Regions from separate parts of the Homo sapiens genome. Here all the other regions are reported to be linked to region 6. The links are microRNA targets in miRTarBase. Many come from high-throughput screens and were not tested one by one. Region 6 holds a microRNA gene; each other region holds the end of a gene's coding sequence. Distances are between the middles of the regions.

What was found. The annotated mature microRNA hsa-miR-216a-3p reads UCACAGUGGUCUCUGGGAUUAU and lies in region 6 at 2,759-2,780, opposite strand. An mRNA with a match to its seed (bases 2 to 7 or 8) in the 3' UTR can be bound and repressed. Matches are read on the target gene's strand: a 7mer-m8 pairs with bases 2 to 8, a 7mer-A1 pairs with bases 2 to 7 and ends in A, and an 8mer does both.
Region 1: the mRNA of PROSER3 is a reported target of hsa-miR-216a-3p. Seed matches in the 3' UTR shown: 7mer-m8 at 3,082-3,088.
Region 2: the mRNA of ITSN2 is a reported target of hsa-miR-216a-3p. Seed matches in the 3' UTR shown: 7mer-A1 at 1,693-1,699.
Region 3: the mRNA of TAGLN2 is a reported target of hsa-miR-216a-3p. Seed matches in the 3' UTR shown: 7mer-m8 at 1,140-1,146.
Region 4: the mRNA of GDF15 is a reported target of hsa-miR-216a-3p. Seed matches in the 3' UTR shown: 7mer-m8 at 941-947.
Region 5: the mRNA of DARS1 is a reported target of hsa-miR-216a-3p. The part of its 3' UTR that is shown has no 7-base or 8-base seed match.

What each region holds. Positions count from the first base shown.
Region 1 is chr19:35,767,232-35,772,591 of GRCh38, reverse strand. It overlaps PROSER3 (proline and serine rich 3), which reads right to left. Exons shown (of 11, transcript NM_001367856.1): 9 at 4,527-5,360; 10 at 4,356-4,437; 11 at 1,426-4,188. The coding sequence ends at 4,047. Among named protein-coding and RNA genes, the nearest start is that of ARHGAP33, 5.7 kb to the left of the region's middle. RefSeq lists an enhancer at 4,689-5,360.
Region 2 is chr2:24,199,365-24,204,724 of GRCh38, reverse strand. It overlaps ITSN2 (intersectin 2), which reads left to right. Exons shown (of 40, transcript NM_006277.3): 39 at 307-480; 40 at 942-1,861. The coding sequence ends at 1,099. Among named protein-coding and RNA genes, the nearest start is that of FAM228A, 27 kb to the right of the region's middle.
Region 3 is chr1:159,914,389-159,919,362 of GRCh38, reverse strand. It overlaps TAGLN2 (transgelin 2), which reads left to right. Exons shown (of 5, transcript NM_003564.3): 4 at 1-89; 5 at 422-1,252. The coding sequence ends at 563. Among named protein-coding and RNA genes, the nearest start is that of TAGLN2, 8.6 kb to the left of the region's middle. RefSeq lists an enhancer at 557-1,446.
Region 4 is chr19:18,388,012-18,393,371 of GRCh38, forward strand. It overlaps GDF15 (growth differentiation factor 15), which reads left to right. Exons shown (of 2, transcript NM_004864.4): 2 at 275-1,165. The coding sequence ends at 924. LRRC25 (leucine rich repeat containing 25) reads right to left here. Exons shown (of 2, transcript NM_145256.3): 2 at 3,126-4,114. The coding sequence ends at 3,976. Among named protein-coding and RNA genes, the nearest start is that of MIR3189, 4.1 kb to the left of the region's middle.
Region 5 is chr2:135,902,737-135,907,891 of GRCh38, reverse strand. It overlaps DARS1 (aspartyl-tRNA synthetase 1), which reads left to right. Exons shown (of 16, transcript NM_001349.4): 16 at 485-2,011. The coding sequence ends at 576. Among named protein-coding and RNA genes, the nearest start is that of MCM6, 29 kb to the right of the region's middle.
Region 6 is chr2:55,986,223-55,991,582 of GRCh38, forward strand. MIR216A (microRNA 216a) reads right to left here and starts at 2,837; the gene lies at 2,728-2,837. The region is part of intron 2 of MIR217HG (MIR217 host gene); the gene reads right to left. All of the region lies in intron 3 of LOC105374690 (a long non-coding RNA gene), which reads left to right.

The sequences.
Region 1 (5,360 bases), not on the chromosome of region 6:
GCTGAAGTGCAGTGGCACCATCTCAACTCACTGCAGCCTCCGCCTCCCATGTTCAAGCAATTCTCCTGCCTCAGCCTCCTGAGCACCTGGGACTACAGGCACCCGCCACCAGGCCCAGCTAATTTTTAGTGGAGACAGAGTTTCACTATATTGCCCAGGCTGGTCTCTAACTCGTGACCTCAAGTGATCTGCTCGCCTTGGCCTCCCAAAGTGCTGAGATTACAGGCCTGTGCCACTGTGCCCACTCTGATTTCATTTAAATGTATGGTTTGCTTAGAAAGGTTAGAAACAGGCCGGGTGCGGTGCCTCACACCTGTAATCCCAGCACTTTGGGAGGCCGGGGCAGGTGGATCATGAGGTCAGGAGTTCGAGACCAGCCAGACCAACATGGTGAAACCCTGTCTCTACTAAAAACACACACACACACACAAATTAGCCAGGTGAGGTGGCATGCACCTATAATCTCAACTACTCGGAAAGCTGAGGAAGGAGAATCACTTGAACCTGGAAGGCAGAGGTTACAGTGAGCCGAGGTTGCACCACTACACTCCAGCCTGGGTGACAGAGCAAGACTCCATCTCAAAAAAAAAAAAAAAAAAAAAGAAAGAAAGAAAGGTTGAAAACAAATATTATATTTACCATGTGACATACAGAAGTTACTAGAAATCCATCTTATCCCTCCATTTTGTAAATGCAGATATCAAAACAACCCCAATCATATATTCTCCATCATTTTATTATGAAAAGTTTCTTTTCTGAGACGGAGTCTCGCTCTGTCACCCAGGCTGGAGTGCAGTGGCGCAATCTCGGCTCACTGCAAGCTCTGCCTCCCAGGTTCAAGTGATTCTCCTGCCTCAGCCTTCCGAGTAGCTGGGGCTACAGGCGCCCGCCACCACGCCCGGCTAATTTTTTGTATTTTTAGTAGAGACGGGGTTTCACCGTGTTAGCCAGGATGGTCTCGATCTCCTGACCTCGTGATCCGCCCGCCTTGGCCTCCCAAAGTGCTGGGATTACAGGCATGAGTCACCGCGCCCGGCCATGAAAAGTTTCTAAATTACAGCAAAGTTGAAAAATTTTACAGTGGACACCCGCATATCCGCCACTTAGATCCTACCATGAACACTTTGCTGTATTTGCTTTATCTCACATCTACCTATTACACTATTTATCCATCAATCCAACTCATCTCTGGATGCATTTCAAAATAAATTGTCGACATTGGTTTATTGTTCCCTAAATATTTCAGTGTACATACTTTTTTTTTTCTTTTCTTTTTTTTAAAGACAGGGTCTAGCTCTGTAGCCCAGGCTGGAGTGCAGTGGCATGATCTTAGTTCACTACAATACAGCCTTGAACTCCTGGGCTCAAGTAAACCTCCTGCCTCAGCGCCCCTCCCCGCCCCTAGTAATGGGACTGCAAATCGTGTGCCACCACATCTGGCTATTTATTTACTTATTTATTTTTGTAGAGACAGGTCTTGCTGTGTTGCCCAGGGTAGTCTCAAACTCCTGGCCTCAAGTGATCCTCCCGCCTTGGCCTCCCAAAGAAGTCAGATTACAGGCGTATCTTTAACTGGCGTTCAATATTTTCTTTTGAGGTAAACTTTACATACAATGAAATTCACACACTTCACTAAGTTTCATAAGTGCATACACCTGTGTAACCCAAACCCCTCCCCAGCATGGCAACTAGTTTTTTTTTTTAATGTAGCCTCTAAAGCAAGTGTCAGAGAGAGAGAGAAAGAGAGAGAAATTATCTTTTTTTTTTTTTCCACTGCAACCTCTGCCTTCTGAGTTCAAGCAATTCTCTTGCCTCAGCCTCCTGAGTAGCTGGGATTACAGGCACCCACCACCAATGCCTGGCCAATTTTTGTATTTTTAGTAGAGACATTTCACCATGTTGGCCAGGCTGGTCTTGAACCCCTGACCTCAAGTAATCTGCCCACCTGAGCCTCCCAAAGTGCTGGGATTACAGGCGTGAGCCACCATGCCCAGCTGAGAAATCATCTTTTCTAACTGCACTTTAGAAGTTAAGCTGCATCACTTCCTCTGCATTTTATTTGTTGAGGGGCCCAGTTTCAAGATGAAGGGACATAGACTCTGCCTCTTGATGGCAAGTGTGTCAAAGAATATCAGGTTTATAAAAACCGTTAAGTTTTCCAACAGTCCAGAGAGGAGGTGATGACAGCCTAGATTGAGGTGTGAGCAGTAGAAGGGGAGAAGCAGTTGAATTCTGGATAGATTTTAAAGGTGGAGGCCAGGTGCGGTGGCTCACATCTGTAATCCTAGCACTTTGGGAGGCTGAGGTGGGTGGGACACCTGAGGTTAGGAGTTCGAGACCAGCCTGGCCAACATGGTGAAACCTCGTCTCTACTAAAAATACAAAAAATTGCCAGGCATGATGGCTCATGCCTGTAATCCCAGCGCTTTGGGAGGCTGAGGCAGGAGGATCACGAGGTCATGAGTTTGAGACCAGCCTGGCCAATATGGTGAAACCCCGTCTCTACTAAAAATACAAAAATTAGCCAGGCGTGGTGGCACACGCCTGTAGTCCCAGCTACTAGGGAGGCTGAGGCAGAAGAATAGCTTGAACCTGCAAGGCAGAGGTTGCAGTGAGCCGAGATCGTGCCACTGCCCTCCAGCCTGGGGGACAGAGCAAGACTCTGTCTCAAAACAAACAAACAAACAAAGAAAATTAGCTGGGCGTGGTGGCAGGTGCCTGTAATCCCAGCTACTCAGAAGGCTGAGGCAGGAGAATCGCTTGAACCCGGGAGGTGGAGGTTGCCGTGAGCCGAGATCATGCCATTGTACTACAGCCTGGGCAACAAGGGTGAAACTCCATCTCAAAAAATAAAATAAAATAAAGGCGGAGATGGCAGGATTTCCTGGTTAACTGTGGGTGGAAGGGAAAGACAGAAGTCAAAGACAACTCTAAGGTTTTTGGTCTGAGCGGCAAAGGACAGAGCCGAAGAAAGTTGGGGAGGGGGGGCCCAGCACGGTGGCTCACGCCTGCAATCCCAGCACTTTGGGAGGCCGAGGCGGGTGGATCACGAGGTCAGGAGACCAAGACCATCCTGGCTAACACAGTGAAACCCCGTCTCTACTAAAAATACAAAAAAAATTAGCCGACCGTGGTGGCGGGCACCTGTAGTCCCAGCTACTCGGGAGGCTGAGGCAGGAGAATGGCGTGAACCCGGGAGGCGAAGCTTGCAGTGAGCCGAGATCACACTATGGCACTCCAGCCTGGGTGACAGAGCTAGACTCCATCCAAAAAAAAAAAAAAAAAGAAGCTGGGGAGAGGCACGCCTAGGGGGAAAGATTGGAAACTCCATTTAGGACCTATGGAATTTGAGATGTCTTTTAAACCCTTGGGTAGAAATGGTAATGAGGTAGGAGCCCAAGGTTTCGTGGCCAGGTCTAGGTTACAGACAGAAATTTGAGGATTATCAGAATAGAGACGGGGTTTAGAGTCATTAAGCTAGACAAGAGCACCTATGGGTGGGTGCAGATAGAGATGTCAACGCCATGGCCCTGGGTCATGCCAAAGTTGACATGCTGGGCTAGTGACTAGGCCTGACCAGAGAGGTGCAGAGAGAAGGGCTGGAAGCAGGGAGAGAAAGTGCTTCAAGGAGGGAGGGGTCAGCTGCACCAGATGCTGCTGCTGCTCAAGCATGTGTGGGCTATAGCCTGACCATCATCCAACACTCTGATGACCCTAGTAGCTTCCTCCGTGGAGGGCAGTCCTTTGGTCCATTTGAGCCAGGGCTCCTGAGTGAAGCCAGATAAGGTGGGTCCCAGTCTTGCCAGAAGTCTTGTCTGAAACTCCCTCTGCCCCAAGGAAGATATAACCAGAAAGGAGATCTTGTTTCCGTGGTCAGGAAGGGGTGGGGGGCAGGGCAGAGCCATGGGGCAGCGGAGGATGGGGGGCATTTCCTTAAATTGGCATGACCCCTTGGCCTTTCCAAACAACCCCTTTCTCACAGATAACCAGTAACTGTATGAAAAAAAAAAAAAGAGCCTCACTGGGTAAAATAGAATCTGTACAATTCAAAGTCTTCTGGCCTCCAGGGAATCTCCTTCCCTTCTTAGCAGCCTCCTTGGGGACCTAGGGGGCGACCCGGCTGGAGGGGACCAAGATCCCAGGTCTTCAGCCTGGTCCAACAGGAACGATAATCGGGCATCCGCTTCCCTGGAGAAAGGCCGGGAGAGCAGAGGCTGGGGTATGTGCTCAGGCTTAGAATCTGGGGCTGTGGACGGACTGCTGGGACAGGGGATGAGGAGGGCTGGATGCCTAACCGGGTCTCAGAGGTCTCCGGGGCCCAGTGTCATAGACTCTGGGGATGGAGGGTCGGTCACCTTTTCTGCCGACTCAGCTCTGCCCTATGGGCTCTTAGCACCTGCAGCACGGGATCGTCCTGGAACTCGCTGCCGTCGGAGTCTGGGCCGGGGAGAAAAGAATGAGCTCCAAGGGGCCGGCCTCTTAGGGGGCTGGCCTGCCTCCAACATCCAGGAGGGCGCGGGCATCACCTTCTGCAGCCTGCAGCAGCAGGGCGGCCTGGGCAAGCAGGGCCTCCGAGGGGGCGTGGTCAGCAGCGGGCGGGGGCGGGGCCAGGGCCTCCGGAGACCCCACCTGGAAGGCTGGCGGCGAGGCCTTGACTGTGGTTGCCTGCTCAGCTGGAGAGAGTGGGACCTCGGGCTGCAGGCAGGCTCCAGGGGAAGGAGTGGCTTCGCTCTTCCGTATCACTGACCCCGCTGCGGGCGGCAAGGCCTTGGCTTTCAGAGACTCGGCCTTGGCCCGACACTGGGATTCAGATGGAGGGGGAGTGACCTTGGTTTGGGGTTGTGTGGCCTGGACTTTCGGAGATCCAGCCTTGGGTGGAGGGGGGCCCTCGAAGTGAGGAGGCGTGTCCTCCAGGCTGTCAGGGAACAGCCGAGCTGCCACTACCTGGCCCAGGACACCCCTGAGCTGAGGGCCAGGTCCCTGGCCAGCTGCAGGGACTTGCTCGGCAGCCTCTGGGCGAGGGGCTCTGCTCCTCCGAGACTTGGGCCCCAGGCTCTTAGGCTGGGCACAGCTGCTTGGGTCAGGGATGGGCAGGCCCTGGGGGACAGCTGGGGATGCGAGGGTGGAGGCTGGAGGTGCAGGGGTACAGGCCAGGGGAGCCGGGGTGGAGGCTGGGGGTGCAAGGGTGGAGGCCAGGGGAGCTGGGGTGGAGGCCGGGGGTTCGAGGGTGGAGGCCAGGGAAGCCGGGGGCGCGAGGGTAGAGCCCAGATGTGCTAGGGTGGAGGCCTGCTGCGTGGGAGGAACAGCCCCAAGGGATACCCAAGGCCCAGACTGTGGGGCCCAGAAGAACCCGTGGGAGC
Region 2 (5,360 bases), 32 Mb from region 6:
CCCGAGTGTGTCTGCGCCGAGGAAGCATGCAGCAGGTTGCAGTGACACTCACCCAGGATTGTTCCGTGCGGAGTGGTCCTGGCGGTGGAGCTCTCGGCCACTCCCCAGTTAATGCTGCTGTCAGCACTGGGAACTTGGAGACCCTGTTACTAGACCACAGGGATATGGTGCCCCAGGCAGCGGCTCCTGCTGCCATGGTCTCGAGTGACCCATTATTGGAATCCTGCTTCTGCTCAGGGAGGGCACTGTCAGTCGCTTCGTTTTACCTGCATGCACCACATGTGTCTGTGGTTTGTTTTTGTTCAGGAAAGAGCAACCCATACTGTGAAATCAGCATGGGCTCCCAGAGCTACACCACCAGGACCATCCAGGACACACTCAATCCCAAGTGGAATTTTAACTGCCAGTTCTTTATTAAGGATCTCTACCAAGACGTGCTGTGTCTCACCCTGTTTGACAGAGACCAGTTTTCACCAGATGGTAAGTGTCGCTCAGCCAGGGGATCTAAAGGCTTTCCCAGTTTCCTAGATCCTGGAGTCCAGATCTAGGGGCTTCAGCTGTGTGCAGACCCCATGCCACTTCAGGGAAGTGACACAGGCCTGTGTCATCTCGCTTTGGCAGCAGGTGGGTGGCCTTCCTCAGGGGAGGAGGTGGCCTGAGATGTGTTTCAGGTCTTTGACCCATCACTCCCTACACACACGACGTGAACACCACTCCTGGAGCATTCTCAGAATGGAGATTTGAATTCCATGTGGCAGCTTCTCACACACAAACCTGCCATCATTCCCCACACACCCACTCACGACATTCAACAGCCATGAGCCAAAAGAAGTTCCTTGTTTCAGATTTGAAGGTTTTATGAATCCACTTCTTCCGGATGTAGCTCTTTAATGATTTTATAAAGAAGAAAGACTTCTGACTCTCCTGTGTTTATTCACCAGATTTCCTGGGTCGTACTGAAATTCCAGTGGCAAAAATTCGAACAGAACAGGAAAGCAAAGGCCCTATGACCCGCCGACTGCTGCTGCATGAGGTCCCCACCGGGGAGGTCTGGGTCCGTTTTGACCTGCAGCTTTTTGAGCAAAAAACTCTCCTGTAGGGGTTCTAAAGGACAGCACCAGCGGGACAGCCCACAAGGCTGGGGCTGGAGAATGAGAGACTGCGCTCTCTTGGGGCTGAGGGAGCACCATGCAGCTTCACCCCTCACAAAGCCATGCACGCTGGGGGCTCTGTTTTCCTGCACACTAAATAGCTAGCAATCTATGCAAACACCTTTCCCATAAAGAAACCAAACCCCATAGTACAGTGCCTTGTCCTAGTGTTCACATGTTCAGCTCTGTTTGTTTAGATGCCAAGGTTTCCATTTTCAGGGCTATAAAAAGTATTACTTGGAAATGAGGCATCAGACCACCAGATGTTACCGCTCGGTTGAATGTGTCCACCGTGGAGTGGTTTGGTGACGCTGTAACCATTCCACGCCAGTGACCTCTGCTGGGTCACAGCCACTCAGGAGGGGAAGGGTCAGGATGAGAGGCTGCAGCCTCGACACTTGGCGCGGCCTGATACTGAAATAGCGTCTACTCGTGCACTGAATAAAAACAGAAACTTGATCATTTTATTCCTGATTAGATTTTATCACTCTCTGCTAAGACAATATAGTCTGGAGTATAAGTGGGAAAGCTTGATTTAAATACTGTGAACTCTAATAATGTGGAAAATATTTTTCAACTTTAATTTTCTGAAGTATAAATTATTTATGTAAATTCATTGTTTTTGCATATTTCTTAGGACATGCATCTTTAAGCTTTATCATTGCCCATATGTACAGAAAGAGAATAAAGACATATGTTTATGGATGGAACTTCGTCAAAGTCTGACTGATTTACTTTCTATATGAAAGCTGCTTTTTTTCTTTTTAATTTTCTCAGCCAGATGAAAGGCTCTTAAAAGGTACCTTCACAAGTTGCCTATAATGAAACCAAGTTTCCTTCCTGGTACGTGGGAAAACCAAGGACAGAGTGAGGATGAGGTCAGGAGACCCAGGGCCTCATCTTGACTCTGCCACTAATTTGCTCTGTGACTTTGGTGAATCTACCTCGTGTTTCTGGGGCTGGGTTTCTTTAATGGGTGAAATGGATGATCTCTGTGGGAGCTACTGACCCTCCTTCAGCTTGCCTCATCGAGTGATAACCTGAGGGTAACTTACAGCAAAGAAATGCACACAGGTCTTACACACTAAACCCAGTAAAAACTGGGAAAAGATCTGCCCCCCCCCTTTTTTTTTTTTTTTTTTTTTTTTTGAGACAGTGTCTCACTCTGTCGCCTAGGCTGGAGTGCAGTGGTTTGATCTCAGCTCACTGCAACCTCTGCCTCCTGGGTTCAAGCAATTCTCCTGCCTCAGCCTCCTGAGTAGCTGGGACTACAGGCGCCCACCACCATACCCAGCTAATTTTTGTATTTTTAGTAGAGACGGGGTTTCACCATGTTGGCCAGGCTGGTCTCAAACTCCTGACCTCAAGTGATCCGCCTGCCTGAGCCTCCCAAAGTGCTGGGATTACAGGCATGAGCCACTGTGCCCGGCCAGATAAGTCCTTTTGAAGGAATCATTTGAATTGCTAGGGCCCTGATTTCTAAGGGAGCAGGTCTCCAGGCAACTAGAGGAACAAGGAAGGATTCAAATGTCCCAAGGGCTTGGGCCTCCACCCTAGCCCCCGCTTCTGTTTAAACATAATTGCTGGGCAAAGGACTGGGAAACAGAACCGGCACATTCAGATTTAAAAATCCATCACTCACTCAGGTATAGATCCTGGGCACTGATTGGTTAAAATATAGACATAAAAAAGGTAAGAGATGTCACTGGATATATGAAACCTAAACAACTGAACATATTGCTTGCTTGTGGGAAAGTGGGTAGTCAGGCCCAGTCTCACGGAGCAGAGTGAACTGCTGGCTGTCTCTAGGGTTGGGGCTTGTTGGTCACAAGGCCAGCCTGGCTGATGTCAGCAGCAAGGCTGCCCTGATGACTCAAAACCAGCTCTAGGCTTACTGGGAACGAGAGCTACGGAACCGTCCTGTGTTCCCAGGGCTGCGGGGACCGTAATCCTCACTGTGGCGAGTGCCATTTCTCCACTGCTAGATACGACAGGACTTTTTGGTCAGATTTAGGGCAGAGGAGCATCAGGACCAGAGTCAGACAACCTCTATGAAACCACGGACCACACGGAGCATCGGCGCACCCGGCCACTCCAGCTGTCCCCTTACGCCTAGGAACGCACACCTGCCCCTTTAGAAATCAAATGTAAGCCTGACTTTTGGGAGGATGTGGGGTGTGCCTGAGTCTCCATACCCCGAGTCTCTATCCCGAGTCTCCATACCCCGAGTCTCCATACCTGAGTCTCCGTACCCCAAGACTCCATACCCCCGAGTCTGTACCGCCTGAGTCTCTGTACCGCCTGAGTCTATGTACCTCCACCCCAGCAGGACCTGGCATATGTGCCTCATGCGCCCAGACATCTCCCCTCTGCTGAGAACCCCCCTCAGCAGGTCCCTCCAGTGCTCTTCAGGAACAGGTGCCATGGCCGGGGAGGGGCACTCCGCTCTCTTAAAAGGCAACCCAAATTGTGAGCAATTTGATGACCAAGTCTGAGTGCATGTGAGGAGGGGATAAATGTGTTGTGTGGCACCTGAGGGACTGGCCTGAGAGAACACTGCCACCTCTGAGCTAGGGGACTGCCACCTCTGAGCAGCTCACCAAGCCTCAGAGCATTGTGTGTTGGGAGAGGATAATACTATCTTACTGCGAAAACTTTTCAGTGAACAAAGTACCTCACAGGGTTCCTGGTTCACAACAGGAGCTCAATAAATAAGAACTCCTGTGATTTGGGTATTTCTTGCAATTTATTTCCACTTCTGGAGGAAGAAAATATGTTTAGAGTATTTTAACTGCTGTACAGACACTGCCAAGTCAAGTCCACGAAGCTTCAGTACCAAGGGTGGCCCTGCCTGGCCACCTTCTGCAGGGAGGCCAGGTGCTGCCCCAGCACCTCAGCTGTCATCACTCTTTTTCCCACAGGCTGGGGACCCCTGTGCTGTTGGCTGTCCCCAGCAGCCCAGGAACGGGGTCTCTGCTGTCTGGTTCCTAAAACCTAGTGACAGAAGAGAAGGACTAAGTGTGGTGCAGGGATGCGGGGCTTACAGGTGCAGCGAGGACCCCCGCTGACTCTGCCCCACACTCAGCCCTCCTGCTGGAGCTAAGACTCCCGTTTCAGGCAGGTTTCCAGCCGGCCCTCTTGCTTTACCTCTCTCTCTCTCACTCTGTCTGGTTCCTGCCAACTCTCAGACAAGGCTGTCTGTATCTTTGAACTCCACAAATAACTAATCTTTTTGTGGTATGTACAGCAGAGATGACCAGCTGTCCACAAAATGCTCTCCTGCCATTGTAGGCAGACCAGCCATGGAATACTTTTCCCCATGCTCCTTCACCCTACAGTTAGGAACAGACATGGAACTGGGTCCAGCCCAGGGAACATCAGAGGAAATGACATGCCGCCTCCAGCCCGGCCCACATACACCTGACTCCCAGGAAGAACTCATCCACGATCTCTTCCCTTTTCAGGTTGATAGGAATGAGTTCCCAGTGCAACCTCGGAAGCCAGGTGCTGAAGATGACACAGGCCCATGAGATAGGATCCGAAAGACCGCACCGAGAGGGACAGCCTGCTGACCCACTGGGACAGTGCCAGGACATAAGCAAAACTTAACTGCTACTGCATTTAAACCTCAGTCCACTTGGGTCTACTAGTGTAGCCCACCCAACCATTAAGGGTAGAACTGACCACAGTCACATTAAGATCTGATATAAACAAGTGGGACTATATCAAACTAAAAAGCTTCTGCACAGCGAACAAAAAGGCAACCTACAGAAAGGGAGAAAATATTTCCAAACCATGTATCAAATAAAAGGTTAATATCCAAAATATATAAGGAACTCATTCACCTCAATAGCAAAAAAGTGAGTAACCCAATTTAAAAATGAGGACAGAGCCTGAACAGAGATTTTTCCAAAGCCTCCTTCCTGCCTCCCTAGAAATGTACAGATGGTCAACAGGTATATAAAAAGGTGCTCAACGTCACTAATCATCAAGGAAATGCAAATCAAAACCACAATGAGATGTCACCTCACACCTGTTAGGTTGGCTATTATGAAAAAGTCGAAAGATAACAAGCCTTCCCTTGTATGGGACTGTTAGATAAGAGTTCTACATTTATTTTCAAAGGATATGTCAGTATGTTCAATTATTTGGCTTCTACTTTCAAACTTCCTCGTAAAGCAACCTTTTTCAATTACCTGCTCCACCCTG
Region 3 (4,974 bases), not on the chromosome of region 6:
TGTGTGCAGCGGACGCTGATGAATCTGGGTGGGCTGGCAGTAGCCCGAGATGATGGGCTCTTCTCTGGGGATCCCAACTGGTTCCCTAAGTAAGTATTGCTGGGACAGCCGCAGGGTCCAGCAGGTGCATTGTTTCTGCCCAATCCTGTCCCTAGGAAATAACTTATCTCAGTAGCAGCTGGCCCTTTACAAAGCACTTTCAGAAAATTCCTCATCTCACTTAATCCTCACAACACCCTCTGGGATGGCAAATGACTGTCCCTTTGGACAGATGAGGAGGTGGCTTCAGAGAGCTTATGGCTCTCGAGGGCAGAGCTGGCACCAGCCCTTGAGCCAACAGCAAAGCCTGTGCTCTGTCCAAGGAAGGGATTTACTAGGGCAGCCTGTGATCTCCTCTAACCACCACTCCCTTGTCACCCAGGAAATCCAAGGAGAATCCTCGGAACTTCTCGGATAACCAGCTGCAAGAGGGCAAGAACGTGATCGGGTTACAGATGGGCACCAACCGCGGGGCGTCTCAGGCAGGCATGACTGGCTACGGGATGCCACGCCAGATCCTCTGATCCCACCCCAGGCCTTGCCCCTGCCCTCCCACGAATGGTTAATATATATGTAGATATATATTTTAGCAGTGACATTCCCAGAGAGCCCCAGAGCTCTCAAGCTCCTTTCTGTCAGGGTGGGGGGTTCAGCCTGTCCTGTCACCTCTGAGGTGCCTGCTGGCATCCTCTCCCCCATGCTTACTAATACATTCCCTTCCCCATAGCCATCAAAACTGGACCAACTGGCCTCTTCCTTTCCCCTGGGACCAAAATTTAGGGGCCTCAGTCCCTCACCGCCATGCCCTGGCCTATTCTGTCTCTCCTTCTTCCCCCTGGCCTGTTCTGTCTCTGAGCTCTGTGTCCTCCGTTCATTCCATGGCTGGGAGTCACTGATGCTGCCTCTGCCTTCTGATGCTGGACTGGCCTTGCTTCTACAAGTATGCTTCTCCCACAGCTGTGGCTGCAGGAACTTAATTTATAGGGAGGAGCCTGTGGCAGCTGCTGCCCCAGCCACAGCTGCACTGACTGTGCTCACCACACATCTGGGGCAGCCTTCCCTGGCAGGGGCCCTCGTGGCTTCTCATTTTCCATTCCCTTCACTGTGGCTAAGGGGTGGGGTGAGGGGATGGAGAGGGAGGGCTGCCTACCATGGTCTGGGGCTTGAGGAAGATGAGTTTGTTGATTTAAATAAAGAATTTGTCATTTTTGAATGGACTCTGGCTGTGTCTGGGGCCACTGTGCCACTGTGGGGAAGGGAGGAATACTGGGCAAAGTGCAGTGAGTGATACAGGAAGGAGGGCAGAGATGAGAGGTTGCAGTGCTAACCCCTGTCTTGAGTTTCCTCCCCATCCTCATTCTCACTTGCTTTGGGGGGTGGTGTAGGTTGGAATTGAGAGGGGACAGGACCTCACAGCTGAATGCAGACTATGTAGGCAGTGTCCACAGGGAAGTAAGGCCCTTTCTAGTCAATGGAATTGGCTAATCCTGCCTGCTGCCTTTGGCTGGGTCTGCCTCTACAGTTGGAACAGCTTCTCAGTCACTGAGAGGGTGGGGCTGGCTGCTGGCACAGCCATCAGTCCTGGCAAGTGAAGCTGTCTCCAGGTGAGAGGTCCCTCAGGCGGGCTTGGGGTGAGGTGGTCTGTGTTGGAGTGGTGAGGGTGGGGGTTGCAGTGGTGAGGAAACGTGGAGAGCTGGGGAATGAGCAGGAGTGAGTTGGTGGTGGTCGCTGGAGGGAAGAAGCCGTGTTGATTGATCCTAAGCACCTGTGAACTAAGTGCCTGGGAGAGACTAAAACTTCCTTTCTAGGGTGTGGCCTTGGGCCATGATCATCAATTTTGGGTCAGGTTGTCTCTAGCACCTATCCTTGACCGAGGCATGAGTGTTCCACCCACAGTTTCTTTTTTTTTCTTTTCTTTTTTTTTTTGAGACAGAGTCTTGCTTTGTCACCCAGGCTGTAGTGCAGTAGCATGATCGCTCTTGTTCTCCAGGCTGGAGTGCAGTGGCATGATCTCGGCTCACTGCGACCTCCGCCTCCCAGGTTCAAGCGATTCTCCTGCCTCAGCCTCCTGAGTAGCTGGGATTACAGGCATGTGCCACCACGCCTGGCTAATTTTTTTGTATTTTTAGTAGAGACGGGGTTTTTCCACGTTGGTCAGGCTGGTCTTGAACTCCCGACCTCAGGTGATCTGCCAGCCTCGGCCTCCCAAAGTGCTGGGATTACAGATGTGAGCCACCGTGCCTGGCTATTTTTTGTATTTTTTATAGAGATGGGGTTTCACCATGTTGGCCAGCCTGGTCTCGAACCCCTGAGCTCAAGCGATCTGCCTGACCTCATGGCTCTGCCTTTTCTTGCCATCTCCCAACTCCCCAGCCTCAGCCTCCCAAAGTGCTGGGAGCCCCACCCATAGTTTCTAACCACTAGGTGTTACCTTTACCCCAAGGCTTCCCAGTCAGACTCTGTGTCTCCCCAGGGGGAATTTGAGGGACGCTGGGCCAGTCTGACATTAAGTTCCAGCCCCATCAGCCTCACCCAGAGGCCTGGCCTTCCTTGCCCCTTTCCCCTTTTCTACCTGAGGGTATCTCTGTCTCCTAGGAGGAGAAAGCCACAACACTGTGCCTGAGGGAAACAGGTTTGTATCCAGAGCTTTTGTTCTCTCCCCTTTTGTTCCCCTGCTTCTCTGAGGCTCCCTCTTCCAAAAAGCACCCACTAGGGGCGAGGCCCAATGCCAATTCTTCATAGCCATGGCTGTCAGCCTCATCCCCACACCACGCTTAGCCTTGCCACACCACACCTCGGGAGAGACTGTATTTGCTTGCTTGCTGCACTCCCACAGGCTGTGGCACAGATAAGATAGGCTGCAGCCTATGGGCAAATTCCCAGGGGATTAGATCCTTTATCTCTCATTCAGGAAGGCTTTGTGGAATGCTAGTCAGGGAGAGTGATGTCATTGCAGAGAAAACATTGAATTCGCTATGTATACTAAAACAACAAGCCGTTTGCCACCTTCCCTGGTTTAACTATTTATAGCTATAAATTATTGGCCACACGCCTCACAACTCTGAGAAATGCCATTTGTTACAGTGCCAGCGCTGAGAACCACTGCCTTCTCCCAGAAGATTCTCACAAACGCCCAGGAGGTGGATATTACTGTAATGTGTTCCCCATTTTGTCTTTAGATGAGGATACTGGTCTCAGAAGGGCCAAGGAATGTGCCCAGGGCCACAAAGCAATTAAGGGAGAAGCAGGGATTTGCATCCAATCAAGCTGGCTCTGAACCTGGCTGAGCCTGTGCAGCTCTAGGCTCAGCAAGAAGTGAAGCTGTCAAGGGACTAGGGGACAGAGGTGGTGGTGGGTGGCAGGGCAATGCTCCTCATCTGTAAGCTGAAGATGATAATTCCTTCCTCGTGAAGTTGCCGTGAGGATTAGATGAACCCTGGAAAGCACTTTGCATGGGGAATGCTAGCACATAGTGCTCAGGAAATGGAAGTGTGGGGAATAAAAGGTGGAACATTTGTGTATGGACCCTGGGCTGAGAGGGAGCTGATGCCCAGCAGTTTCATGCCCTTCACCACTGTCCTGTTGAACACGGGCCAAGATGCTTTCAGTGGCCCTATCCCCTTTACCTGGAACAGCTTATTTTCAAGGGAGACACCAGCTGTATTTGAGAGGGGCTCAGCCATTGGGCTCACCTTCTTCTGGCTGCACCCACCACCACCCAAGCCTTGTGAGGAATCTCAATGTTCCCTTAATTCATCTAACTGCAGACTCAGCTGCTTCCTTCTGGAGCCGGCCTCCAGTGGCATCTCAACATTTTCCAGCTTTCTGTTTGTCTGCTTTCTAGCATTTTGTCTCACCTGAGGTTACAATTTCATCCTTAACTTGGCTTCTCTCATCTCTGACCCCACTTCAGGCCCTGGGGCCCAGACTAGGCACCAGCCTGTGTATGGTTCTGCCTTTTCTTGCCATCTCCCAACACCTTATTCTGTGTGGCTGTCTACAGTGGTGTCTCTCTCTCTTTCTTACATTTTTCTTTATTATTATTATTATTAATTATTATACTTTAAGTTCTAGGGTACATGTGCATAACGTGCAGGTTTGTTACATAGGTATACATGGGCCATGTTAGTTTGCTGCACCTATCAGCTCGTCATTTACATTAGGCATTTCTCCTAACGCTATCTCTCCCCCAGCCTCCCACCTCCACAACAGGCCCCGGTATGTGATGTTTCCCTCCCTGTGTCCATGTGTTCTCATTGTTCAACTCTTTCTTTCTTTCTTTCTTTTTTTTTTTTTTTAACTTTAAGCTCTGGGATACAGGTGCTGGACATGCAGGTTTGTTGCATAGGTATACGTGTGCCCTGGTGGTTTGCTCCACCTATCAACCCATCACCTAGGTTTTAAGCCCCGCATACATTAACTGTTTGTCCTGATGCTCACCCTCCCCTCGCCACACCCCTTCCCCGACCACAGACCCTGGTATGTCTTGTTCCCCTCTCTGTCTACGTGTTCTCATTGTTCAACGCGCTACAGAGGTGTCTCCTAACACTCTGCACTTGCAGGGCTTCTCCTGCCGCCTGGAACAATCTCCTTCCAGGTGCTGCCCTCACTTGCTCCTTTATCTCCTTCAGGTTTTTGTTTAGACGTCATCTTCCCTGATCACCTCATTTAAAACTGCACACTTCACCCTCAGCCTGGACCCCGTGCTCCATTCCTGCTTTCTTTTATCACCACCTGACACCCAATATATTTTACTTATTTATTTTCTGTCCCCACCCATAGAATGTAAACTACACAAAGGCAGGCTTTTGTTGGTTTTGCTCATGTAGAGTAGTGGTTGGCATGTTGTAGGTGCTGGATAAATATTTGTTGAATGAATGAGTGAGCATGACACCACCCTCATGCTCCTCAGCCCCCTGGCTTGGCAACACAGTG
Region 4 (5,360 bases), not on the chromosome of region 6:
GGGCGTTTCACCATATTGGCCACATATCGGCCAGGCTGGTCTTGAACTCCTGACCTCAAGTGATCCACCTGCATCGGCCTCCCAAAGTGCTGGGATTACAGGCGTGAGCCACCGCGCCCGCACGGAGAAATGCTCTTGGTAGGGGAAATAACTTGTGCAAAGGCGCCGCCGCCGTGGTGAGATCCAGCTTGGCGTGTTAGGGGAAATGGGCACCCTCGTTCCTGGAAAACGGTAGGCCTGTGGGTGACCAGCTTCCCTATCTGTCTTCCCACAGTGCGGCTGGGATCCGGCGGCCACCTGCACCTGCGTATCTCTCGGGCCGCCCTTCCCGAGGGGCTCCCCGAGGCCTCCCGCCTTCACCGGGCTCTGTTCCGGCTGTCCCCGACGGCGTCAAGGTCGTGGGACGTGACACGACCGCTGCGGCGTCAGCTCAGCCTTGCAAGACCCCAGGCGCCCGCGCTGCACCTGCGACTGTCGCCGCCGCCGTCGCAGTCGGACCAACTGCTGGCAGAATCTTCGTCCGCACGGCCCCAGCTGGAGTTGCACTTGCGGCCGCAAGCCGCCAGGGGGCGCCGCAGAGCGCGTGCGCGCAACGGGGACCACTGTCCGCTCGGGCCCGGGCGTTGCTGCCGTCTGCACACGGTCCGCGCGTCGCTGGAAGACCTGGGCTGGGCCGATTGGGTGCTGTCGCCACGGGAGGTGCAAGTGACCATGTGCATCGGCGCGTGCCCGAGCCAGTTCCGGGCGGCAAACATGCACGCGCAGATCAAGACGAGCCTGCACCGCCTGAAGCCCGACACGGTGCCAGCGCCCTGCTGCGTGCCCGCCAGCTACAATCCCATGGTGCTCATTCAAAAGACCGACACCGGGGTGTCGCTCCAGACCTATGATGACTTGTTAGCCAAAGACTGCCACTGCATATGAGCAGTCCTGGTCCTTCCACTGTGCACCTGCGCGGAGGACGCGACCTCAGTTGTCCTGCCCTGTGGAATGGGCTCAAGGTTCCTGAGACACCCGATTCCTGCCCAAACAGCTGTATTTATATAAGTCTGTTATTTATTATTAATTTATTGGGGTGACCTTCTTGGGGACTCGGGGGCTGGTCTGATGGAACTGTGTATTTATTTAAAACTCTGGTGATAAAAATAAAGCTGTCTGAACTGTTCCCTGTGGTGTCCAGGATAAGGGAAGGTGACCTTGAGAAGATCCTCCTCTCCCTGACCTCAGTTTCTCTAGGAGACCTGGGAGGGGGTAAGTGGAAAGGCTCAAGGAATGAGTGGCAAGGTGTTCTCGGAGATGCCAAGCCATTGGAAGGTGCTTACGACACCTGTGGGCTCTAAGGGCAGCCTTGGCCATTCCTGACTCCCTGACTCTCTGTCTCTATTTCTCTATCTCCTTATTGCTGTTTCTTTTTTCTTTTTATTTTTTTTAGACGGGGTCTCACTCTGTTGCCCAGGCCGAAGTGCAGTGGCACAATCACAGCTCACTGCAGCCTCAACCACCCGGGCTCAATCGATCCTCCCACCTCAGCCACCTGAGTAGCTGGGACTACAAGTGCATGCCATCATGCCCAACTAACTTTTGTATTTTTTGTAGAGGCTGAGTTTCGCCATGTTGCCCAGGCTGGTGTTTCTGTTTTGGAAACAGCTGAGACCCCATACCTTTTTAAGTCTCAGCTTCCCTCCATCTTTCCTCATTCCTCAAAACTTCTCTCTTTGGGGTCTGAGGCAGAGGATCTGTCTCTGTCTTTGTCTCTATCACCATCCTGTTGCTCTCCCCACTTGGGAGTCACCTTTCCAAACACAGGCAGCTCAGAGCCAAGTCTATCTGCAACCAAGTGCCTTGTTTTGTGGTACTGTCCCCAACCTGAGGGGTTAGTCCCATCACCCCTCCTGTTTGTGGCACTTCCATGTTAGTGACACCTCATTCTTTCACATATAAAGAGTAGGGAGAAACAAATAAGTTGTGAAGAATATTTTCATGCACACCACATCTCCCAGGTTATATATACTTCCTGTTTAGGATGTTGGAATTTTGAGGTGTGCTGAGTCCAGCCCCCTCTCCACACCAAACTGCCTGCCCATCCTGAATCTCTGAGAGGAATGGCGATGGGTGTCTTGAGGGACAGAGTACCCACTTCCAGCAGTGAGGTGTATCTGCTGGGAATGCCATCACCCACAGGCCAACCTGAATGACTGCAGGTTCCCCTTAACGTATTCAGTGAGTGCCCACTTTATGCCAGGCCCCGGACACAGCTGTAAAAAGACACACAAGGACCACCCCACTTTGCGGAGCCTGGTTGAGTGAAGGGGACAAATGAGTAAATCCTAAGAAAGTAGTTGATTGCAGTAAGATTTGTGCTGGGGATTCAACCCATCAGTTCATTAGTGAACGGAGGCAGAGGTGATCTAGATAGTTGGATGGGGAGGCCTCCCTGGGGAGGGAGGTCACATTTGAGCTGAGACCTGGAGGAAGAAAAGGAGTCGGGGAGGGGGTAGTTGAGGGTGGACATTGCAAGTAAATGCAAACAGCAAGTGCAAAGGCCCTGAGATGGGAGCAGGCTCACTTCAGTCACAGCAAAGCTGTTGAAAATGGGCACCTAGGAGGCTTCAAAATTAAACTCAATACCAAAAGGCAGCAGATGGTGTCACTGAGTCTTTCCCCAAACAACAGCTGTTGCCTTTGCAAGGTATAGGGCTGGGCCTGTGCCTTCTCTGTGCTTCTCCAGGCTCTTGCACAAGTTGGTCCACCCAGCCAGCATGCCCTTTCCTCTCCAATTCTCAAACTCCTATGCATCCTTCAAAACCCACTGCAGATTCCCCTCTTACATGCAGCCTTATTCAAACTCATTCAATTGTCTCCATGTGGGGACTGTGCTCCCATTCTTCCCTTTGGCCCAGGCTTGATCTCCCAGGACTGAGGGTACTTGTCTCTAGTTCTATCTCCCCCAGGTTGGAGGATTGGGCTGGGACCAGCTGATAGGAAACCCAGTTGAGGCATGAGCCTGAAAAAACTCTTGAAATACAGACATCTGTGAGTCATTAACTCTGCCTGAGAAGAAACCAGGGACAGCTTCTCAAAGGAGGTGGCATTGCACCAGGGTCTTGAAAGATTTTCTCAGAATATTAGAGCTAAAGGAATATATACATTTTTTTATTTTGGGGTTGGTGTGGGCTGCTCTGGAGGCCAAGCCTGGAGATCAGGGACCTGGGAAGGGGCCCTGAGAGGGGCAGAAGGGAGGAATGTGCCTGGGCGCAGTGGCCACGCCTGTAATCCCAGCACTTCAGGAGGCCGAGGCGGGCAGATCGCTTGAGGTCAGGAGTTCGAGACCAGCCTGGCCAACATGGCGAAACCCCATCTCTATTATAAATACAAAAATTAGCTCGGCATGGTGGCGGGTGCTGTAATCCCAGCTACTCAGGAGGCTGAGGCAGGAGAATCACTTGAACCCAGGAGGCGGAGGTTGCAGTGAGCTGAGACCGCAGCATTGCACTCCAGCCTGGGTGACAGAGTGACACTCAGTTTCAAAAACAAACAAACAAACAACAACAACAAAAAAAAACAGGGATGGGAGGTGGGGAGCAATTTGGGAGTCTCAGATGGAGACTTGGTCTTAGAACTCAGAAATCCCCACCTTGAGGAACCCACGCACCCTGAGCCAGCAGCCTCATCAGCCTCGAAGCATTTATTGAGCACTGCCTGTACATCCACAGGAGGGTGATGACAGGATTGGCACAGTGACCGTCCTGTCCCCTTGTTGGGGGTCTCTCCTCTTCCCCCTCTAGGAGCTGAGGGAGCTGAGGAGCGGCATGAGGGACAGGGAGGGGGCGGCAGAGCTTCCTGGGGCCTCAAGGACAATCCTTTCCTGTACCCATTCTTCAGATGGGGAAACTGAGGCCATGGAGGCGTTAGGACGCCCTGAGTCACCCAGCAGGGACTGAAGGGGTTCTGGGTGGAGGTTAGGACATCTTAGGCTCAGTGCCCGGGGATCACGTACTCCTCTTCATCCATTGGGGCCTGGCCCAGTGACTGCAGGTTACAGTAGACAGGCTGGGAAGCCAGGTCGATGTCCTTGTAGTTGATGTAAAAGTCATTGTCCTCTGAAGGGTGAGCCCTGGGGGGACAGACAGACCAGGGGTAAGTGTGGGAGGGGGAGGACTCAGGGGACAGGCACATGAGCTTTGAGAAAGTCCAGAGTGGGCCAGGTGCTCTGACTCACGCCTGTAATCCAGCACTTTGGGAGGCTGAGGTGGGTGGATCACCTGAGATCATGAGTTCAAGACCAGCCTGGACAACATGATGAAACCTCGTCTCTACTAAAAATACAAAAATTATCCAGGCATGGTGGCACAGGCCTGTAGTCCCAGCTACTCGGGAGTCTGAGGCAGGAGAATCACTTGAACCCAGGAGGTAGAGGTTGTAGTGAGCCGAGATCGTGCCATTGCACTTCAGCCTGGGAGACAGAGCAAGACTCTATCTCAGAAGGAAAAAAAAAAAGAAAGCTTCAGAGTGGCTCAGTCCACCCCGAATATTTACATATGGGGAAACTGGCACGGGCTAGCGTTCTGACTCCTAGCCAACCCCACCTCTCTCTGAGGAGGCTGCGGGAGGGCAGTGATTTAGGGAAGGTTCTGTGGGTGTAACGCTGCGGTCTGAGGACCCTGAACCCTTTTTCCTTCCTTAAAAATGAGATAGCGGCCAGGCGCGGTGACTCATGCCTGTAATCCCAGCACTTTGGGAGGCCAAGGCAGAAGGTCTGCTTGAGGCCAGGAGTTTGAGACCATCCTGAGCAACAGGGTGAGACCCCATCTCTACAAAAAATTAAAAAATTATTCAGGCGTGGTGACGTGTGCCTGGAGTCCCATCTCCTCGGGAGGCTGAGGTGGGAGGACCGCTTGAGCCCAGGAGGTCGAGCCTACAGTGAGCCGTTATCACACCACTGCACTGCAGCCTGGATGACAGAGGGAGACCCCGTCTCAAAAAAAACAGAAATTGAGGTAGCTGTTCATTATTACATTAAAATCTAAATTTTTGTTTCCTCTTGAAAAATCGGAAGCTCTGGCCACGTCAGTCACATGCACACAAGTGGCTGCACCCACACTCTGTGCTCCTTCCGATGGGAAATGTTTTCACCACTGAAGCAACTGACTTTGTGGCCCTCATATATAAAAGCAAGTCTCTGAGCCTCAGTTTCTGCATCTATAGAATTGGTCAAGGAGCAGGTAGCTACTTAGGAATATTTGTTATGGTCAGCAAGACCTCCAGAGAATTTTCCTGCCTCCTGAACATTCTAATTCCAACCCAGCTCCTCTTGTAAAAAGGGCCACTGGGCCAGGTGCGGTGGCTCACGCCTATAATCC
Region 5 (5,155 bases), 80 Mb from region 6:
ATAATAATGTACTCCAGAGCTTTTTATCGTAGGGTCCACCATGTTAAATGTCTATAAAATTAACAGTAAATTTTCTCATACTTCTATTATTGCTTAAGCAAGTTTATGGCTCTCATCCTCATTGCCTGGACTGTATAATCAGAGTGTGGTATCATTTGAAACGTTCAAGCTTATAAAGTCTTTTGTTTTGTTTTTCTTATTGTTACATCATAGATTTTGTTCATTCGTATAGATTTTTGTGGTTCACATTTTAGACTCCATACCACTCAAGGATATATTACTTAGTCCTTTTCATTTATAGCAGCATCTTTATTTCTGAATCAATACTCAAAACAGTTTTAAATAAACCCAAAATAATAAGAGTCATTTTCTTTCCTAACAAGGAAAAGTATTTAGTTTAACGATTACATTTATGTTTGTAGTTCTAAGTAAGACCCTGAGAGATTTTCAAAAAGGAATTAATGATTATTTTTGTCTTCCCCAGGATTGGAACGAGTTACTATGCTGTTTCTGGGATTGCATAATGTTCGTCAGACCTCCATGTTCCCTCGTGATCCCAAACGACTCACTCCTTAAATTCACACTTTGCCACTTAACTCCAGTGTGGATGACAGAGCGAGACCCTGCCTCAAAAAAAAAAAAAAAAAAAGAAAGCCACACTTATTCTTTTCAGTAACCTGCTAGTGCACAGGCTGTACTTTAGGTACTTAAAATATGCACTAGAATAAATTTGCAAGGCCCTAAAATATCACTGTTATTTTTGGAGTAATTCAGTATAGGTTCGTTTAAAAGAGATTTTTATAACTTCAGACATGCATCAGTAGGAAATAACTTGAGAAATTCATATGGTTATGTTACAAATTCATATTCTGTTACTACAGTAAACGTTAAGAGTTTTAAACAGTTAAGATTGTACAATTTTTCTTCTTTTCTATATTACAAGGGCCCCAGTGTTAATGTCTTAGATTTTCAGTATTTGAACTTATTTTTTTAAATTCTGTCATTGAGATAAGAATAATTCAGGTAGCATCTGAAATTTTAATGAATGTATAATTGGCATATCATGGAAAATTAACCAGAAAGTATCAGTTCTTAAAAGTTATGCCTAGAAATTATGTAAAGCTAAACTACTGGTTAGAAAGTATTCAGTGTAATATTGTATTAATTTGTTAAATTCTAAACTTGAATTTCAATAAAATTTTAAAGCTAATTGTAGTTTTTGTGTAACTTTGTGGCCAACTGATTTTGTAAGTGGTGCTAGGCATTCATAATTTGGTAAAAGAAAAAATACACAACTAGTTTATATAAATAAAGACTAATATGTTGTCAACATGTATTCATTTCAGGATATTAGTTTAGATGGGCGTAGGGATAGAGCTCTTAAAGTTGACAGCTTGGGTCGGTTGACAGAGTTCATTTCACATGGGTTAAAATATATTGCAGAATTTTGTTTGATTTTTAACTGGAATGGTACTGATACTTAGTGAATGTCAGTAAAATCCAGTCCCATCTTATCCGTCAAAAAGAAATTTTTGTGTAAGAATTAGTTAGAAACACTTTCCCTCTAGATTATTACAAATGTTGATGCTAATGTTAATTTTACATGACCACAAATATTGGGGAGGAACAAAACATAACATATTTTTGTACAGGAAGAAAAAATTACATGCAGAAAAATATGAGGGTCAAAAAGTTAGGAAGTTACCCCTGGACCACGAACATCTGCCCATTATGTTTGAAAGTTAAAGGGGGTGTTTACCATCTATATTGTACAGTCTTTGAAAGTTTAGATTCAGTTCTTATTTTTTTCTTTCATATCCTACCAGAATACCTTAAATATAGAAGGCACCCCAAAAGTATTTCATAATTTAATCCACAGCAAGAATAAAATATCCATCTTCTATAGTGTGTAATTGCTAGACCCTAAAATAGTACAATAATATTGGCCCTAGAGCTGTTCTTAATTTCATGTAATTATAGCTTGTTTCAAAATAAAGTTTGTAAAGTCTTAGAATGATGTAATCTTTTTTATTGTGAAGGTTTTCAAACATGCTGACCAAATTAGAACATGATAAAATACACTTGTACCTATTATCCAGTCTTATCAAATCTTTATCATATTTGCTTCAAATATTTTTTTTTATTTTTATGTATTTGTTTTGAGACCAGGTTATGAGACTGGCTAATTTTTGTATTTTGGTAGAGGTAAGATTTCTCCATGTTGCCCAGTCTGGTCTTGAACTTCTGGCCTCAAGCGATCCACCTGCCTTCACCTCCTAAAGTGCTGGGATTACAGGTGTGAGCCGCTGCACCTGACCTCTTATTTATTTATTTTTTTGAGACAAGTCTTGCTCTGTGGCCTAGGCTGGAGTGCAGTGGCATGATCTCAGCTCACTGCAACCTCCACCTCCCCGGTTCAAGCGATTCTCCTCAGCCTCCCAAGTAGGTGGGATTACAGGCTCCCACCACCATGCCCAGCCAATTTTTGTATTTTTAGTAGAGACGGGATTTCTCCATGTTGGCCAGGCTGATCTCAAACTCCTGACCTCAGGGGTGATCCGCCTGCCTGGGCATCCCAAAGTGCTGGGATTACAGGTGTGAGCCACTGTGCCTGGCCCTTACTTTATTTTTTAAAGAGAAAAGAAATCAAAAAAAAAAGAAATTGTGGGCAGTTAAGGTACCCTCTTATAGGAAACTATTATATGAATTCAAACTTTTATTCTTTTGTTTTTATATTTTCACTAAATATTTATGTTTCTATAAATGTCTAATATTGTTTTGCAGATTTATTTGATATGTAAATCCTGAGATTTTCATTGGAACTACCTTAAATTTATAGAATAATTTGAAAAGACTTGGAATTTCCCTCTCTTTAGTCTTCCAGTGGATGAACATGGTATATCTCTTCATTTATTGATTTTTTTAATTGTAGTAAAACATTTTTATTTTATACTTTAAAAGTGTTTTGCTTTTTGTGTGATGTTATTATTTATCCTATCAGCATTTTATTCTCAAGATTATCAAAGAATTTAGTACTGTTAATGCTGGAAGCAAATATCTTTCCATTTTAGCTCTATATCCTTGTGCTTTGCAGATCTGAAGATATTTCAGCTGAGTCAGAACAGCCTTGCCAAGGATCTGCTAATCATGTGATGAAGGGAGAAACTGGTGAGGTAGCTTAGTGTTTTTTTGTGGGCAGGATTTAATGAGTACTCTTGAAAACAAAATATTCAGTGTAACAAAATTTGAAAGATCTCACCCTGTTGCCCAGGCTGGAGTGCAGGGGCAGGATCTCAACTCACTGTATCCTCCACCTCCTGGGCTCAAGCAGTCTACCTCAGCCTCCTAAGGTAGCTGGGACTGCAGGCGCACACCACCACACCCAGCTAACTTTTGTATGTTTAGTAAAGACATGTAGTAGTTGTCATGTTGCCCAGGCTGGTCTTGAACTCCTGGGCTCAAGCAATCCACCTGCCTTGGCCCCCTAGAGTGCTGGGATTACAGGCATGAGCCACCACGCCCAGCTTGTGTATTTTTTCGGCTTCAGCCCGGAAATAAATGTTTCCCATGAATTCAATCATAATATAGACAGTACTTTGTTCACTGTAGTTTTACTTAACATTAGCATATTAAAACTGCTTTTAATTTTCCAGTTTATGTTAGAACACCTTACAGTGTTTTGTTTTGTTTTTTCTATTGGGAATGAAACCATGCCCCAAGGAGTTAAAAAAAAAAAAAAAGTTGAGTAACAAATTCTTGGGTGTGGAGGATAAACAGATAAGAAAAAACAACTTACTAACACTCCCCTCCCTTATAACAAAACTGTCTAAAATCAGTTAAAAGCAATATTGCTAACTAGAGTTTACACAGCAAGCTTGCTAATGTTACAGCCTAAAGTTTCACCACATATTTTATACTAACTACCTCCAAATTGGCACATGGGACCCATAAAGAGGTAACTACACATGCCGAAGAACTTTCCAGACCTCTTCCACCAATCACCTACTAATCCCAGAATCCGCCCCCTGAAGGATAAAATCACTGCCTTAACACCAGCACAGAGAGAGCAATTTGAGCTGCACTCCTGTCTCCTTGTAAGTCACTTGAAATAGAAAGCTTTTCTCAAAAACCCAGTGTCATTTTATTGGCTTAGAGCATTGGGCAGTGAGCCCCTTCTGCTTGGTAGCAGGATTGGGATCTTTTCCGTGACATTTTTAAATTGTTACAAGGGTAAAGAACACTATCAGTTATCAATTTTTTTTTCTTAGATGGCTAATTTTTTTGTATTTTTAGTAGAGACAGGGTTTCACCGTGTTAGCCAGGATGGTCTCGATCTCCTGACCTCGTGATCCGCCCGCCTCGGCCTCCCAAAGTGCTGGGATTACAGACGTGAGCCACCGCGCCTGGCCTCAGTTATCAATTTTTATATGTTGCCATTTTATGCAGCAGTATTCTTGATCTCTTACTCTTTCTAATAGTTTGTATTGAATATCTTGTATTTTCAAGGTAGATGGAGAGGTGTGAGAAGGGATAGCATAACAGTAAAAAGTATGGATTCTGTTAGCCACACTGCCTGGGTTCAGATTCTGGTTTTGCTCTTACATTAATGTATAACCTTGGATAACTTGCTTATCCTCAGCTTTCCTCATTTGCATAATCCTACATCATGAGACTATTATGGGAATTAAAAAGTGTAGAACACAGAATAGTGTGGGGCAAAATAAGAGTTTAGTCTTCCTGTCTCATTCTTATATTTGCCGATTGCATTAGATTAGTTCTTCAGTAGAGTGTTGAATAAAAGCAGTGATGGAGGCATGCTTGTATTGTTTTTATTTAAATACTAAAGTCTTGAGATTAAGTGTGATAATTTCTGTAGGTGGTTTTTGTTTTCGTTGTGTGTTTTTTTTTTTGTTTTGTTTTGTTTTTGAGACAGGGCCTTGCTCTCTTACCCAGGCTAGAGTGCAGTGGTGCAATCTCAGCTCACTGCAGTCTCGACCACCCAGGCTCAAGCAATCCTCCCACCTCAGCCTCCCAAGTAACTGGGACTACACGTGCATGTCACCACACCCAGCTAATTTTTTGTATTTTTTTGTAGAGACAAAAAAATGTATGTTGCTCAGTCTGGTCTCGAATTCCTGGACTCAAGAGATCCACC
Region 6 (5,360 bases):
TCATCATTTAGTGGTACAGCATGGGGGAGGGCCACAGAAAACTCTAATCTGGATTTCCACAGAAGACAAACATTTGGAGCCTGGGGCCATCTTTACCAGGCAGAAATATAATTCAGGTTTTCAACAAAAGCTCAGGATCACAGATTCAGCAGACATCTAAGGTCTAGTCCTGCGGACTGGCAGTAGGTTCTGCTTGTTTGCTCTGATTAAGAGGCCGGCTGCTTGCACCTTGACTTTCATAGTCTTCATGGTACAGGTGGAAAAGGGATAATAAGTGCCACGCTCTAGGTGCTGGTGAATGAGATGATGAGCTAGGAATGCTGAGGACTTAGTTCCCAGGAGCCCTAACAAGGTCTTCGGTCATCAGCAAGACAGAGCCTCTTTACTAAAAGGGTGGGAATCCTGTTGTACTCTATTTTTACTGAAGACTGGCATAAACCCAGTCTAACAAATGATATTTTGAATGTCTCATTGACAGAGATGCCAAATCCTTCACTTATTTTGATGCTAATTACTACCAGGATGTAATTCTAAAATTATTAAGCTTTAAAAGAAAAGTCAGAATCTATGTGTTGAAAGGATAAGTGATTTTCTTTTTTTCTTGAAACAGTGACTCAAGCTGTTGCCTAAAGGAGTTGGGGCTCCTGATTTCTGAGCTAATTTCCTTTTTGTTCTTTCATACTAGCTTTCCTCTTGGTTGGAATCTGCCTATCCTGTGGTCTTACATTCCTAAAGTTAAATGACAAGGAAGTTATTTGCAGTCCACAATAACTATTTTTCTTTAAAGTTTATACATGGTTAGATTCTAAGAAAAGTCTATTAAACTGTGTTACTGGTAAATAAGTCATGCCACTTCTTTAATTAAAACTCTCCAATTGCTTGTGGAGTCCCTCACACTAAAACCCCAAATTCTTACCATAGTCTACCTAGCTATACCCTCTAATCCTCTCCTTCCAGTTTTTCTCACTGCACTCCAACCACAGCTTCCCTGTTGAGCTCAAATACAGTGATTCTCACCTTTGGCTGCACATTACAATCCCCTGGGTGCCTCTTAAACAGAGATGCCCAGATCCCATCCCAGGCATTCTGATTTATCAGTGGCACAGCCCTTGATATTGACATTTTCAAAAGCTCCCTGTGCCTCTATGTGCAGAGAGCACTGGGAACATCTGGAGACTGCAAGAGTGCACTGAGTGTACACACAAGCAAGGCAACAAGCATGGTTCCTGATGCATCATATGTACTCAGCTCTTCAAAAAATATTTCCTGCTCTGTTTAATTACATTTATCTTCTTCCCTTTTTGAAAAATGGTCACCAAAAATTGGAATTGGGAATTTTTTCATGTTTGAAAAAATGATTATTTCAACTAGCAGGAGGATACAGACAACATTTAGAAAGTTTCAGCAGCAGCTTAAAAGAGCCCTTAATGAGTCCTGAAAATTAATACGAAGCCCTCTCCTTACCAGAGGTAAGTTATTTCCTGGCTTATGGTTCAGTATTTGTGCTATTAGTATGTGAATAACTAGTTCTCAAACTTACCTCCTACTGCTCAACATCAATTTCTGGCAAGGAAATCTAATAGGTCATACTAATGTGCCTTGATACAGAAATGTAATTTTTTTTTTTTTTTTTTTTGAGACAGAGTCTCGCTCTGTCGCCCAGGTTGGAGTGCAGTGGCGCAATCTTGGCTCACTGCAACCTCCGCCTCCTGAGTTCACTCCATTCTCCTGCCTTAGCCTCCTGAGTAGCTGGGACTACAGGTGCCCGCCACCATGCCCAGCTAATTTTTTGTATTTTTAGTAGAGACAGGGTTTCACCGTGTTAGCCACGATGGTCTCGATCCCCTGACCTCATGATCCGCCTGCCTCAGCCTCCCAAAGTGCTGGGATTACAGGCGTAAGCCACTGCGCCCGGCCCAGAAATGTAATTTAATCAAACTGAGATATACAGACTTCTCTTTCTGAGGATACCTGAGGGGATATGTGCCAGTCAAGACCTTGGAAATAGCATTTTAATAATTTTTGTTGTTAAAGTTATCCCACATTTAATTATAAATTTGGTTCATCTGATTTGTTTTGTGTTACTGGGTGAATGAGGAAGATAACTGGCCTTGATTTTTCACCCTGAAGAATTACATTTGTTCTTATTCTTTTTATGGAAAAGGATTATCTGTTTCCAGGGATCACCGAGAATTAGAGTTGGGTACAGCTCAAAAGTTTCATGGCAACCTCAGCCTAAGCCATAGTTGATTCTAAATTTCAATATTATTTAGGGCAGATGAATGTGAAACACTTACAGAAGGAATGAGGAAGGGCGATTAAATGTGATAATCTGGGGAGTTGAAGTTTGAGGAGGGCCTGGCAGGAGATCGTCCTCTTTTAGACTGTTTGGAATTTGATGGAGTAGCACCCACAAAGAGAGTGGGAGGAGCTTTCAGAGGGAAAATATTTTGGGTTCAGCTTCTAACACCCAAACTCCCTTGGCTGCAATTTTTTAAAAAACCAAGTAGCACTGAAGGAGCGCAGTAAGTAGCAAGCGAATCCAATAAAGGCAAATTAATTCCCAAGGCTGGTTTCCTTTCCAGCACAACAGCACTTTAGAAAAAGACTTTACTAAGATTAAAAGAGGTTGAGCATGAAACAGTAACCATCGAAACTTTTCCCCCCGTCTTGGTCATGAAATAGAAATTTGGTGTTTAATTTTGGTTGCCATGCAAGTCTTTTGATTCGTGAGGGCTAGGAAATTGCTCTGTTTAGCATAATCCCAGAGACCACTGTGAGGGATTGTATGAACATCTCACAGTTGCCAGCTGAGATTAAGCCAACTCACAGCCATCCGTGTTAGACCTGCAAGAGAAAGTGTATGAGCAGAGGCACGTGGCTGCCTCAGGTGGAAGCACATCTTCATACATCGAGTGCACCAGCAGAAGCCCTGATGTACCCCTCTGCATTTTTCTTGAGGCGACATTATCAAGCTACTCCTCTTGCTGAATTCACAGATTTCTGGCATATGCTATATTGCATGTAATGTCATAAAAGTATAATCTTTGCATTTAGAAAGGATTTACTCTAATCCATATATAGTAAGAAACAGCCAAGTAGGAGTACAGGTGAATGTAAAACCAATCACTAAAAATGATTTTTTAAACAAGCTTTATAGAGAACTTGGAAACATCAAAGCCAAACACTCTAAAATTTGTCCTCAGACAAGAAAACCAGCAATTACGTTGAAAAAGTAATGACCGTATACTCACCAAATGGCCAGATGTGTCAATAGCGGTGGCTATTACCTTTCATAGATGGTGGTATGTCCTCCCCTCTTGCCCACATCACTGTCATGGCTAAGTGAGACTGAGCCATGATCTAAGCCCCTCAGTCCACTGGGTGGGGCTAATCAATGGTAAGAATAATGATTAAGAACGGAAGGAAGAGGAAACGCCCTCAGAGTTTCCCCACCATCTGCCGTGGATGGCATCTCAACTTGAGTGAGTGTAAGAAGCACATAGGAAACTTGTTACAAATGTAGATCCCCAGGACCTACCTCTATATTTTGATTCAGTAGGTCTGGTTTTGGTGGCTGCGATTTGCACTTCGGTGGAGATTTTCCACTGCCTTTCTCCAGCTTCACTTCATACTAGACCATTTCTTCCTCTACATTGTAGACTCCAGCTCTAACAAGTTCTGAGAATCCAATGAGCTGTGTTTGCCCATACTTGGAATTATTTCTTCTTTCTCTCTCCCTCCTCTCTCTCTCTTTCACACACACACACACACACACACACACACACACCCCCTTGTGTGACAGTCACACATTGAAAACTATCACACACTGCCTTCTCTCCCCAGTCTCCCTTTTTTGGCACCTGTAATACACAATGGTGTTTTCTCACTCACATGCTTTCTCCTTCATTGACTGCAAACTTCCAAGTGTTGGCACTGTGCTTATTCATCTCTATATCCTCAACTATACTATTCTCAGTTTAGCATCTGATGTTTAATAAGTGCTCAAAAAAATTTTGTCAAACTAAATCAAATGTTTGTTGAAGCAAAGAATTATGGATTTCAGCTCATAACTTGTCCTTTAATAATTGAGACTTGACACAATTAAGAGAGTGGTAATTTACAGAGTTAGAAAAGTGGCTTTTCGTTTTAAAAGTCAGGTAAATATAAAGTTACAAAACAATTGAGAAAGAACAATTGAATATAATCTTGTGCCTCATATGGACTCCTAAGTACAAAGCTACTTTTGTAAAATAAGAATGTCTCATCATTAGGATTTAACTTTTTAAATATTGTTCTAAGTTTATTTTCTGGAGTCAAATTGCTCAGGATTAAAAATAAGCAGATTTTATCTTAATCAAAAAACAAGGGCTTCTCAGAGCAACATGAATGACGTTCAGTTTTTTCTTTTCTCTTAATCTTATATTTGATTTTCCTTTCTCTCTAGAAAGTTTAATAGTGAAAAGTTACCATAGAGAAGTGACAGGAGTATGTAGTTCTTCTTCCCTCTGCTAGAAAACATTAAGAAAAGATCATAAATGGGAACATCATATGCTGATGTGGAAGATGAGACAGCTTTTTATTAATCTTAAGTTGTCATGTCCACAACTGCACAGGGAGGTGGGCTCTCAATGGAAGCAAAGACATATACGTTTCTGCCTTGCCTACCTTAGTGGGTTGCTGTGATGGGCATTTAAAAAAGAAAAAGGAAGAAACTGATACAAAGTTGTTTTGGCAACAAAGCTATATTAATGTGGATAGATAGTCCACAGGCCAGATAAACTGAAATACAGTAGCAAAGTATCAAGGAGTAAGCTGTTTCTAACACTATCTATACATTCTGTTCAAGTATTCTGAGGATATTATCTAAGATGTCTCTATATGCATATTTTGGGTGCACCGCAATGTATGCATTTGTGATCTTAGTTCTGTTAGAGACTCTCTATAGATTTGTATTTGAGAGTAATAAATTTCAGTTTGGTCATTGGGTCTGTTCAGATGGTGGCAATTTTCCTATTTCCCTGAAGACTAGTGTTATTTATTCAAAGCTGTAATTATTTGGATATCTTCTGAAAACCTGGAGGACTACCCCTTCCTGCAGCTATCTTGGCTGTGGAATGGTGTGTGGGGTGTCGGGAAGCACATGAGCTTTGGAGTGAAGTGGACCTTGGTGTGACTCCTGGTTCTAATACTTAACTACCTGTGGGCTTTAAGGCAAATTGTTTTATTTCTTGGAGCCTCAGTTTCTGTGTTGGTAATACTTGTGCATGAGATTAAGAACTAAATGTGGTGTTTGTGAAAATGTCTAACTAGTACAGAATCTGATACACAGATTCTCCATAAATGCTAATTTTATTTTG